Linked DNA regions of Homo sapiens: region 1 is linked to region 2. The links come from fine-mapping of genetic effects on gene expression. A gene starts in region 2. The other region holds a variant in brackets. All regions are shown on one strand. Distances are between the middles of the regions.

Region 1 (5,361 bases), 27 kb after region 2:
CTGTCACCACCATTGAGCACCAACCCATCTTCATCACCTCCGAAAGAAGCCCCTTCCCCCTCAGCTGTCACTCCCCAACCCCTCTCCTATCCCCTGACAACCACGCATCCCCTTCCTGTCTCTGTGGATGGGCCTGTCCTGGACATTTCGTAGAAATGGGATCACACACTGCGTGAACTTTGGTGTCTGGCGTCTCTCACTGAGCGTGACGTCCTCAAGGTGCATGTGTGCTGGGGCCTGGGTCAGGGCCTCGCTCCTTTTCATGGCTGAGTAATATTCCAGTGTGGAGGGACCACGCTGTGCTGATCCACACATCTATCCATGGACATTTGGGCTGTTTCTACCTTTTGTCTGTTGTGAACGGTGCTGCTTGAGCACGGGTGTGCAATCGTCTGTGTGAATCCTGTTTTCGTTTCTCTTGGATATAAACTTCTGAGTGCACTCGCTGGCTCATAGGGTCACTCCCCAGTAAGCGCTGTGCGCACTGGGGAGCTGCTCACCTGTTTTCATGGTGAAATCTTTTTTTCTTTCTCCTTTTTTTTTTTTTGAGACAGAATCTTGCTCTGTCACCCAGGCTGGAGTGCAGTGGCAGAATCTTGGCTCACTGCAACCTCTGCCTCCCGGGATCAAGTGGGTCTTCCCAAGTAGCTGGAATTACAGGCATCCACCACCATGCCCGGCTGATTTTTGCATTTTTAGTAGAGATGGGGTTTCACCATGTTGGCCAGGCTGGTCTTGAACTCCTGACCTCAGGTGATCCACCCGCCTCAGCCTCCCAAAGTGCAGGGATGACAGGTGTGAGCCACCGCGGCTGGCCCACGGTCAAATCTTAAAGCATGGTTTCCCAGCCACAGCACCGTGGCCATTTGAGCTGGACCAGTTTCTGGAGCAGGGCCGTCCTGGGCACTGCAGGGTGCTGAGCACTGTCTCTAGCCTCCATCCACTCCATGCCAGGAGCACCCCCTGCCCCTGTCTTGGCGTAACCCAATCATGGCTGTTGCAAATGTCCGCTGCCATTGCAGGGGTCCTCTGGGGGCAGGATCACCCCCTGGCTGAGAACTACGCTCTTTAGGCCAAAGAAAGAGGGGTGTTCTGGGAAAGCAGGTGAAAGTCACAGGGTGGGTTTGGGCCCTGGAGGCCCACCAGGTGGTGAGAGAGAATCCTCTCCTGCAGGGGAAGGTGAAGGGCTGAGAGGGATTCTCTCCCGGGCCACTGCGAGGGCCTGCAGTGGGGGTGGCGGTCAGGCTGTCCCGGCTGCGAGTCACGCGCTCTCTCCTGCAGCATGTCCGGCATGATTTCGGGTGGCAACAACCCCTTGGGAACTCCCGGCACCAGCCCCTCGCAGAACGACCTGGCCAGCCTCATCCAGGCGTGAGTGGAACTGCTTCCAAGAGGACGGAGGACGTGGGCGGCGGGCAGGGCTCGCAGGCGGAAGGGAAGGAGGAGAGCGAAAGTGCTGCGTCCCCTGCTCCGAAGGGCCCAGCGTCCTCCAGCGAGGGGTCAGGCCTGTCTTTGGGGTGGAGGGCCCGAGGGGTCAGCTGGGGATGGACGGAGGCAGCAGGCAGCCTCCTGGCCCTGGCTGAGCCCCATGTGCCCTTCCCCGCAGGGGCCAGCAGTTTGCCCAGCAGATGCAGCAGCAGAACCCAGAGTTGATAGAGCAGCTCAGGAGCCAGATCCGGAGTCGGACGCCCAGCGCCAGCAACGACGACCAGCAGGAGTGACGCTGCGTGAGTGCATGGGGCCGGGGGCTGGGGGGTGGCCAGCAGGAGTGACACCACGTGAGTGCCTGGCAGTGAGGGCAGCCAGCAGGAGTGACGCCCGGGGGCTGTGGAGCCTGTCTGGACACTGGACAGCGAGTCCTGGGTGCATCCAGCTCAGAAGATCACCCTGAACCGCCCAGGCAGGTGGGGGCATCTCTGGGCATTGGGCCCCTTTCCAGGTGGCCACCAAGTCCTGCTCCCCACTCCTTTCCCATCTGTGGATCGGCGCTGGGTGGAGATTAGGGGAGAGCCACAGCTCCCTGGAAGGGCTGGTGTCTGGGGTCCCCCCTGCCTAAGGCCGCCTGCAGAAGCTCTTTGTTTCTGCAGTGTCGGGGCTGCCACCTCGGGGGTGGGGGCGAGGTCATCGAGTGGTGGAAAGGACAAGCCGGGTACCTGCCTTTGACTGCGCCCGAGCGTTCTGCCTGCATTTTGTGAGGGATTTTTTGTCCTTTTCTCACTGTGAGCAGGTGTTGCACTTACAGTTGTTTAAAAATACACTCAGTGTCCCCCATGGGTTCCAGGGGCCCGTGGCTGGCTTGGTTTCCTTCCCCAGGGGCCCCTGAGTTCAGTCCTGTCCGTCTCCAGCAGACACCGGCTTCCCAGGGGTGGGAGGCTCCCCTGAGTTCAGTCCTGTCTGTCTCCAGCAGACGCCGGCTCCCTGGGGGCGGGAGGCTCCGGGCCTCCCCAGAGGTGTTTCCATTCTGCTCCCATGTGGCCTCTTCATTTTGTCGTTGTCCCCTCCTCATATACACTCTCTTTCATTTTTAAACCATAATTACTGTAGACAAATTTAAAATACAAAAATGTTAAAAAGCAGCAAGAACAATCTTAATCTTTTTTTTTTTTTTTTGAGACCGTCCTGCTCTGTCCCCCCGGCTGGAGGGCAGTGGTGCAGTCACGTCTCACTGCAGCCTCAACCTCCTGGGCTCAAGCGATCCTCCCGCCTCGGCCTCCCAAAGTGTGAGCCGTGCATTCAGCCCAACCTTAATCTTCTCACCCAGAGCCACCAACATTAATATTTTGGCCGCCTTTTCTTCCAGTCTTCCCTTTTTTTTTTAAATAAGCTTTTATTTATTTTTCCTTTTCTTTTTTTAATAGTTGAGGTGGATTTTTTACCACCGTAACCTCATACACAAAGTACCACCATACTGTAGACCCTTCTAGGTCATGGCGATGTTCTCTGCGCCACCAGCCACACGTGGCCCCGAGTGTGTGGAACGCTTCTGGTGCAGCTGTGGCTCTGACGTTCGTTGAAATAGCCGCTGTGGCCCCTGGCTGTCCACTCTGGGCCTCTCCTGCTGCCTGGAGTGTGTGGTGCAGCCTTGGTCCCCACCTGCGCTCTGACAGCCTTCATGTCTGTCC[C/T]CTTCCAGCTGCTCCCGGTGTGACCGCGTCCTTCCCTGGCCGACCCGAAGGAAGCCTTCTGGTTGTCTGCCACTTCCTCCTGTTGGACTGCCTGAGAGAGGGGAAGAGAGAGACCTCGGACCTGCATGTCAAGATGGATTTTCCCCTTTTATCTCTGCCCTCCTCCACTCCCTTTTTGTAACTCCCTTACAGCCCCCAGACCCTTCTTGAAACGAGAGCCAGCAAGCTGAGCACAGACCAGCAGCGACCTCCCTTCCAGCCCCCAGAAAGCTCGGTCACTTGAGTGTTTTCTAGAATCCTGGGGTGCTCCCGGGCCGCTCTCAGAGAAGTGGCAGGTTTCACGTTCAGCCGTGTGGCGGATCGTGTGGCTTCCAAAGCCTTTTACAGCCCCCGCCCCCCATCCCGTGGTCTGTCTGCAGGAACTCTCCCGTCTGTGAGAAGCCTCTTTCCGAGTCGACCTCCCGGCCACCCCGGCCCTGTGCCTGCTCGGAAGAGCTCACTGCCAGCTGCGGCCTGGGCACCGCGGGCCATGTGTGTTTGCATGAGGAACTCTTTAGTGGCAGACACCTAAGAGACGGCTGCGGTCACCCCACGCCTCCGCGGCTCAGGAGCCGTCCTGGGTGCATAGGACCAGTTTCTGTGACTTTTCTCCAGTTGGGCATGTTGACAGACATGTTTCCCCTCCTCCCACCCTCATTTTCTGGTCCTCGCGACTGAGAGCCAGGGGCGACATCATGACCTTCTGTCCCGGCCGCCTTAGCCCCGGGCACAGGGAAGGCAGCTGGGCCGTTTCTGTCTGTGTCCCATCCTGCTGTCCTTCTGTCCTGGATGTTTCATGGGCCCGGGGCCCCCCAGGGAAGCTTACCCCTCCTGTGCTGGGTGGAGGCCACGGGACACCTCAGGTGCCACCCACCTTGGCCCTAAAACAGCCACCAGGAAAGCAGCCGGAGAGCCGGACAGCAGGCAGCCTGTCTGGGTTCCTGAGGCCTGGGGGTGGCAGACGAGCCCACGGCGCCGTGGTCCCAGCAGCAGGGTTGTCAGTCGGAGCATCCTGGGGCTCCCTGGCTCCTGGCCGTCTGTGAGGTAGGCGCAGTACCGTGTATCGTAGGTAGCAGTAGGAACGGGGGCCGCCGCGGCCCTGCAGCCGCTCATGGCGGTGAGGTGTGTGCCAAGCCCACCCGGGGTGCAGGGCGTGACGTGTGGGGAATAAATAGGCGTTGTGACCTCTGTCTGTCTTCGTGTTGACCTTGGCGCCACCGATACCCTCCAACCCCAAACCTCGAGAAAACCCCCGACGCGGAGTTTGTGGATCAGCTGGGCTGCTTGTGAGTGAATCCCCGCGACGCCGGAGCCGCACTTCTTGGGTCACGGGTCACGGGTCATGGGAGGTTTCGGACAGTCAGCCTCTACCCTCTGCTGTCTCCCTTCCCTCCGCCTCCGTCCCCAGCTGCATCCCGGTGTAGAGGGTCACCCCAGGGTGGGGTGAGATGCCTCGGTCCTCAGCAGAGAGTGATCGTATTGTCTGTTGCTTTGCTTTGCTTTTTTTTTTTTTTTGAGACTTTCACCCTAGATGCCCAGGCTGGAGTGCAATGGCGCAATCTCGGCTCACCTCAACCTCCACCTCCCGGGTTCAAGTGATTCTCCTGCGTCAGCCTTCCAAGTAGCTGGGATTACAGGCATGCACCACCACGCCCAGCTAATTTTTTGTATTTGTAGTAGAGACGAGGTTTCTCCATGTTGGTCAGGCTGGTCTCAAACTCCCAACCTCAGGTGATTTGCCTCAGCCTTCCAAAGTGCAGGGATTACAGGCGTGAGCCACCGCACCTGGCTTTGTCTGTTGCTTTTCTAGCATACTGTAACTCCATAAATTCTGTATTCTGTAACCAAAGGCACCTCCCTTTCACAACGGCTCCAGTTGAGAGAATGGGTCAGTGAGGGAGTCCCAGGCAAGAAGGAGCCCAGAAAGCTTCCAGGCCCATCTCAGCCCCAACCCTAGGGTGCTGCACAGAGTTTTGTTGTGAACATAGAAGCTGCTCCCTTGGCCAGGTGTGGTGGCTCAAGCCTGTCATCCCAGGACTTTGGGAGGCTGAGGCGGGTGGATCACTTGAGGTCAGGAGTTCAAGACCAGCCTGGCCAACATGATGAAACTCCATCTCTACTACAAATACAAAAAAAGATTGGCGGGCATGGTGGCAGGTGCCTGTAATCCCAGCTACTCAGGAGGCAGAGGCAGGAGAAT
Region 2 (5,361 bases):
CTCCCTATCTTCGATCCTCTCTTATTTAATTTTTGAATGTCTGTCTGTGGCTCTAGAATTCCAGGAAAACGGGACTGGAGTCGTTAAATCACGGCCTCCCCAGGGTCCGCCACGGGGCCCGACCCATCCGGAAGGGAAGCGCCATCAACTTTGCAGAATGAATGAAGCGCTGGAAAAGCTGGTTCATTCATTCGGCAAACGAGAGAGCAGGGTCGTCCACCTCCCCCGCTGCCCCTCCAGCCCGGCCGAGGGTGGCTCGGGGGTCGCTTCGCTCCAGCCTTAGGCCCAAGTCGCGACCCCGGGAGGAGCGAGGGTGCAGGGGACGCCCGGGTCCGGCGAGCGGGGTAGTCGGTACCTGCGGGGGGCTTCATGGCGGGTGGGTCTGCGCCTGCGGCTCCCTCCCTCCTTCCACCTGCTACGCGTCCAGCCACCTCGGCCACTGAGGCCGCCTGCCTCGGCCCAACCGCCGCCACCGCCGCCACGGCCGCCTGAGGACCAAGGGGCCCGCCGCCCGCGCTCCCGGGGCATGCTGGGGCGGCGCGCGCACAGGGAGGGCAGGACGCACGCGCCCCTGAGCCCCGCCCACAGCTAAAGGAGGAGGGCCGGGAGTGCGCTGGAGCCCTCTGCGCACTCGCCGTAACCCTCCCGGTCCGTTATTGGTCTCGGCGGTGCGTGGGCGGAGCCTCTTGCTCTACCATTCCAGAGCCGCTGGGGTGGCTAGGACGGACGGTTTCCTTGGAAACCGCGCACGCCGCTGACGCCTCTGAGCCTCTGCGCGGCTCATTGCGCTGAGACTTCGCTTGGGCTTCAGGCTACCGCGTTAATGTGTACTTGCCTCGCTTCTTATAGCTGTGTGTTGGGCCAGTGTTATTATTGATCGCTTACTGTATATCCCAGGCCCACTTTCCAGCATCTGAATCCGACGAATCAATTAAATTAACCAGAAGTTTTGGTGCTTTGGTTGTTTTTGAGACGGAGTCTCGCTCTGTCGCCCAGGCTGGAGTGCAGTAGCAGCAATCTCGGCTCACTGCAACCTCCGCCTCCCTGGTTCAAGTAATTTTCCTGCCTCAGCCTTTCCAGGAGCTGGGACTACAGGCGCCAGCCCCCACCCCGGCTAATTTTTGTATTTTTAGTAAAGAGGGGGTTTCACCATGTTGGCCAGGATGGTCTTGATCTCTTGACCTCGTGATCCGCCCGCCTCGGCCTCCCAAAGTGCTGGGATTACAGGTGTGAGCCACCGCGCCGGGCCAAGTTTTTTTTTTTTTTTTTTTTTTTGTCAGAAACAAAAGCAAGTAAACGGATTCATGTCAAATAACAGGTGTTGTGGAACAGTGCAGTAGCCTGACCTACATGCAGTGTTGTGGGTTAAAACAAAAAACATCTTGAACCATCTGTCTTGAACTGTTAGGGCACCCAGAAAAAACAATGTACTACAATTAAACTGGCAAAAACCAAAACAACCGACCTCCTTTCTTCCCTTTTTTTGTTTTTGTTTTGTTTTCTTTTGCTTTGGAGGGGCTGGAGGGAGTCTCGCTCAGTCGCCCAGGCTGGAGTGCAATGGCGCGATCTCGGCTCGCTGCAACCTCTGCCTCTCGGGTTCAAGCGATTCTCCTGTCTCAGCGTCCCGAGTAGCTGGGACTACAAATGCCCGCACCACGCCCGGCTAATTTTTGCATTTTTAGTAGATACAGGGTTTCACCGTGTTGGCCAGGCTGGTCTCGAACTCCTGACATCAAGTGATCTGCCCCCTGGCCTCCCAAAGTGCTGGGATTACAGGCGTGAGCCACCACGGCCGGCCTCACCTCCTTTATTTCTGCAAAAGAAATTAAAATAATCCACGCCATTAATCGTGCATGTATTTTGAGTAGGACGAAAATGAATTGGGAGAACATTTCTGGCAACTGTAACTTAGATGGTGATCAGTTTTCTGTCGTCCTTGGAAATGTCTCATCACATGTCTTGAGCAACACCAAGATTAATTTTACATCGGCGTTCATTTTCGCTGTTCCCTGTGCCTGGGGTCCGTTTGGACTTTCCTATCCTTGAAATCCAAATGTAAAGGATGATCTTTCCTACCCATCCCATGCGACTTAGCTCCCAGTGACAATCACACTACCTTCATTTTTTTTTTCTTAGTGTTTGCTGTGAAATTTGTTTCTCTATTTATGTACTAGTTTATTAGTTTATAGTCCGTCTACCCCAATGCAAAATAATGAGAGTAGACACTTTGCTGGTTTTTATGGCTGCTTTGCAATAAATATTGAATGAATATTAGGCACCTGCTGTCTACAAATGGCTCTATACTCACAAACGTCTCACACTGCATGAAAGAATGCATTTGTGGGTGAGTAGATGGGTGGGTGAATAAATGAACAAAGATAGTAAGCGGGTAACACTGACTCCCATTCATTGCGCAGCTGTGACGCTCTGGAGTCCAGGTGTCCAAACGCGGCTGCACCACGTGGCCGGCCCAGCACCACGTGGTCAGCTCGGCGACCGGCTGGAGTCAGCCACTGTTCCACCGTGCACCGCTTCATTCCCGCTCTAGAGGGCAAACCAGACCCGATTTCCGGCCTCCATTAGGTCGCAGAGGTCAGTTGCCCTAACAACCAGCTGGTTCCCGCCTCTACGTTGCGTCACTTCCTTCCACGCCCGCCTCCATCATTAACGCGCCTGTGCAGAAGGGAAGCAACTCCGGGCGCCTTTCTTTTGCGCAGGCGTCGCGCCCTGGGGCCGGGGCCGGGCGGCACCGCGGTGCGCAAGCGCAACCGTCGGTGGGTCGGGGATCGGTCGCCTGAGAGGTGAGTGAGGGGCACTGCGCTGAGCCTGGTGGGTCTGGGGTCTGCGGCTCGGGGCCCACGGGGCCCCAAAGCTCGTAAGAGTTTGGGGATCGTGAGGCCAGGGTCACCGCGACCCGCGGGGTCCTGTGAGTAGGCGGTGCGGAGGGGAAACTGAGGCCGGGCGCCATCGGGCAGGCCCTTCGAGCCCTGATCTCCCTTCCCCAGGCCCCAGGTCCTGGAAATGCTGGTCCGCGGCCTGGTGGCGAGGACGGCGGGAGGGGAAGGCGCCCCGCATGTAGTGAGCGCTCGCTGGGTGTTCGCTGCCGTTCCGCTCTTATTAACCGCCTGGAAACGTCGTCCCTGTGACTCAGGGACCCCCGTTTGTGGGGACTGAAGTCGGAACTCTGGTTCCAGCGCCGCCAGTCCCTACCTGGGTGACCTTGCCCAGCCTCTTGGCTTCTCGGAGCCTCAGTTTTCCCCTCTGTAAAACGGGCGTTGTTCAAAAGTCCCTGCCTAGGAGAAGGAGAGCCGCAGGGTCCAGCGGAATCTGAGAACTCCAAAGAATTAGCAGGCGTTCGTCTTATATCATGTTTAGAGTCTTCTTCTGCATATCGTGCTAGAGGTGGGGGAAATCTGGGATTCAGGACCGTCCACCACCACCTCCCACCCGCTGTGTAAACCTGGGTGAGTCGCCTTCCCTCTCTGAGCAAACTGTTCCTTCTTTCGCAAACGAGTTGTAAAAGCAGATGCCTCGGAGGGTCATTATGAGGATAAACCCACATTCAATTATTTGATCAGGTGCCTGGAACTTGATAAGAGAGAGCTGGCTTGAGAATAGCTGTTTTTGTTATTAGGTGCCAGAAAATTGCAGTGTAGTGTGCCCTTCAGAGGTTGAATGATTGTCCCATTTTCTTTTGTTTCTGTCTCTGATTATTCCTTTTGTCTGCCTTTTCCCTCCCTTGACCAGTGGTTCTCAACCAGGAACAATTCTGTGCCCCAGGGATTCTTGGTGACATTTGTGCTTGTCATGATTTGGGGGACCCCCTGGTTTGGAGTTGGTGGAGGCCAGGGTTGCTGCTCGGCACCCTGCAGTACCCAGGACGGCCTCACCCCAGAAAATGATCCAGCTTTAAATGTCAATAATGCTTTAAAAACCCTACCATACGGGCTGATGACCTGAGGTCAGGAGTTCAAGACCAGCCTAGCCAACGTGGTGAAACCCCGTCTCTACTGAAAATATGAAAATTAGCTGGGCATGGTGGTGTGCACCTGTAATCCCAGCTACTCAGGAGGCTGAGGCAGGAGAATCCCTTGAACCCAGGAGGCAGAGGTTGCAGTGACCCAACATCATGCCACTGCACTCCAGCCTGGGCGACAGAGCGAGACCCTGTCAAAAATAAAAAAAAAAAATCTACCCTAGATCAGTGATTCTTCACCAGCATGGGCAGCTGGGACTGTGTGGGCCCGGGAAATCGTGTACAAAGTTTTGTGTGTGCACCCAATTTCGTGCAGAGAGAAATGGGTACTTTGGAGTTTAGCTTCTCAAGTCAGACTGCCTGGGTTCAGAACTCCTCATTTTCATCCTCGGAGCTGGGTGGTCTCGGGTGGTCCCCATCTTTCCAAGCCTCAGTTTTTCTTCTGTGGAATGGGGATTATAATAGTAACCACCTCAGGTGTGTGAGGATTAAACCAGGCAAGGTATCAGCAAACTGACCAGAAGGCCAAATCCACCTCTGGCCTGTTTTTGTGAATGAAGGTTTGTAGGAACACAGCCACACTCCTTGGTTTATGCGTTACCTGTAGTTGATTTCGAGCTAAGAAGGCACAGTTGAACAGTTGCCATAGGGAACTTAACGCCTGCAGAGCTGAAGACAATCTGGCCCTTTTCAGAAAAACCTTTGCTGACCCCTAAAATAAGCTATCGCATGTACAGCACTTAACTGGGTGCCTGGAAAGCTGTAAGCACGCCAAGGATTTGAGCTGAGGTTTATAATTAAATCTTCCTAGAAGGGTGAATGATTCCAAATGCGGGTGAGCTCTGCCCCAGATTGGAGGATCCTTGAGAGCTGTCGTCTTACTCAATTCTACATTTTTTCTTTTTTATGCCAAGACCCAACAGTGGCTCTGGTAGGAAGTGCTCAGTACAGGCTGAAGGAACAAAGGGGTGGTTTGAGATAGGGTCTTGCTCTGTCGCCCAGGCTGGAGTGCAGTGGCACAATCTCTGCTCACTGCAGCCTCGACCTCCCAGGCTCAGGCCCTCCCACCTCAGCCTCCTGAGTAGCTGGGACTACAGGTATGCACTACTACACCCAGCTAATTTTTGTATTTTGTTTTAGAGATGGGGTTTCACTGTGTTGCCCAGGCTGGTCTCAAACTCCTGGGTTCAAGTGATCCTCCACCTTGGCCTCCAGAGTTCTGTGATTACAGGCGTGCCCCACTGCACCTGGCCCGTTTTCTCTTTTACTGAGGTGGAAACAGAGACCCAGAGAGAAATGGCCTCCCCAAGGAACGTGACCATGTGGCTGTGAATTTTTCAACAATCGCAGGCTTTCCTGAGTCCATAGGGTTTAGACGCTGCCAG

The links. PIP is the estimated chance that this variant, and not a neighbour inherited with it, causes the effect. A credible set is the group of variants that fine-mapping cannot tell apart.
Region 1: its variant is the best candidate, but not a certain one, in a credible set for the expression of SGTA in whole blood (TOPMed, PIP 0.86).

What each region holds. Positions count from the first base shown.
Region 1 is chr19:2,753,703-2,759,063 of GRCh38, reverse strand. SGTA (small glutamine rich tetratricopeptide repeat co-chaperone alpha) reads left to right here. Exons shown (of 12, transcript NM_003021.4): 10 at 1,282-1,371; 11 at 1,607-1,727; 12 at 3,131-4,349. The coding sequence ends at 1,721. Among named protein-coding and RNA genes, the nearest start is that of SLC39A3, 16 kb to the right of the region's middle. The variant C/T (reference allele first, on the strand shown) is at 3,123.
Region 2 is chr19:2,780,673-2,786,033 of GRCh38, reverse strand. It overlaps SGTA (small glutamine rich tetratricopeptide repeat co-chaperone alpha), which reads left to right and starts at 2,761. Exons shown (of 12, transcript NM_003021.4): 1 at 2,761-2,801. It overlaps THOP1 (thimet oligopeptidase 1), which reads right to left and starts at 531. Exons shown (of 13, transcript NM_003249.5): 1 at 356-531. The coding sequence starts at 371. RefSeq lists silencers at 245-704, 735-844, 2,790-2,839 and enhancers at 2,330-2,399, 3,896-3,995.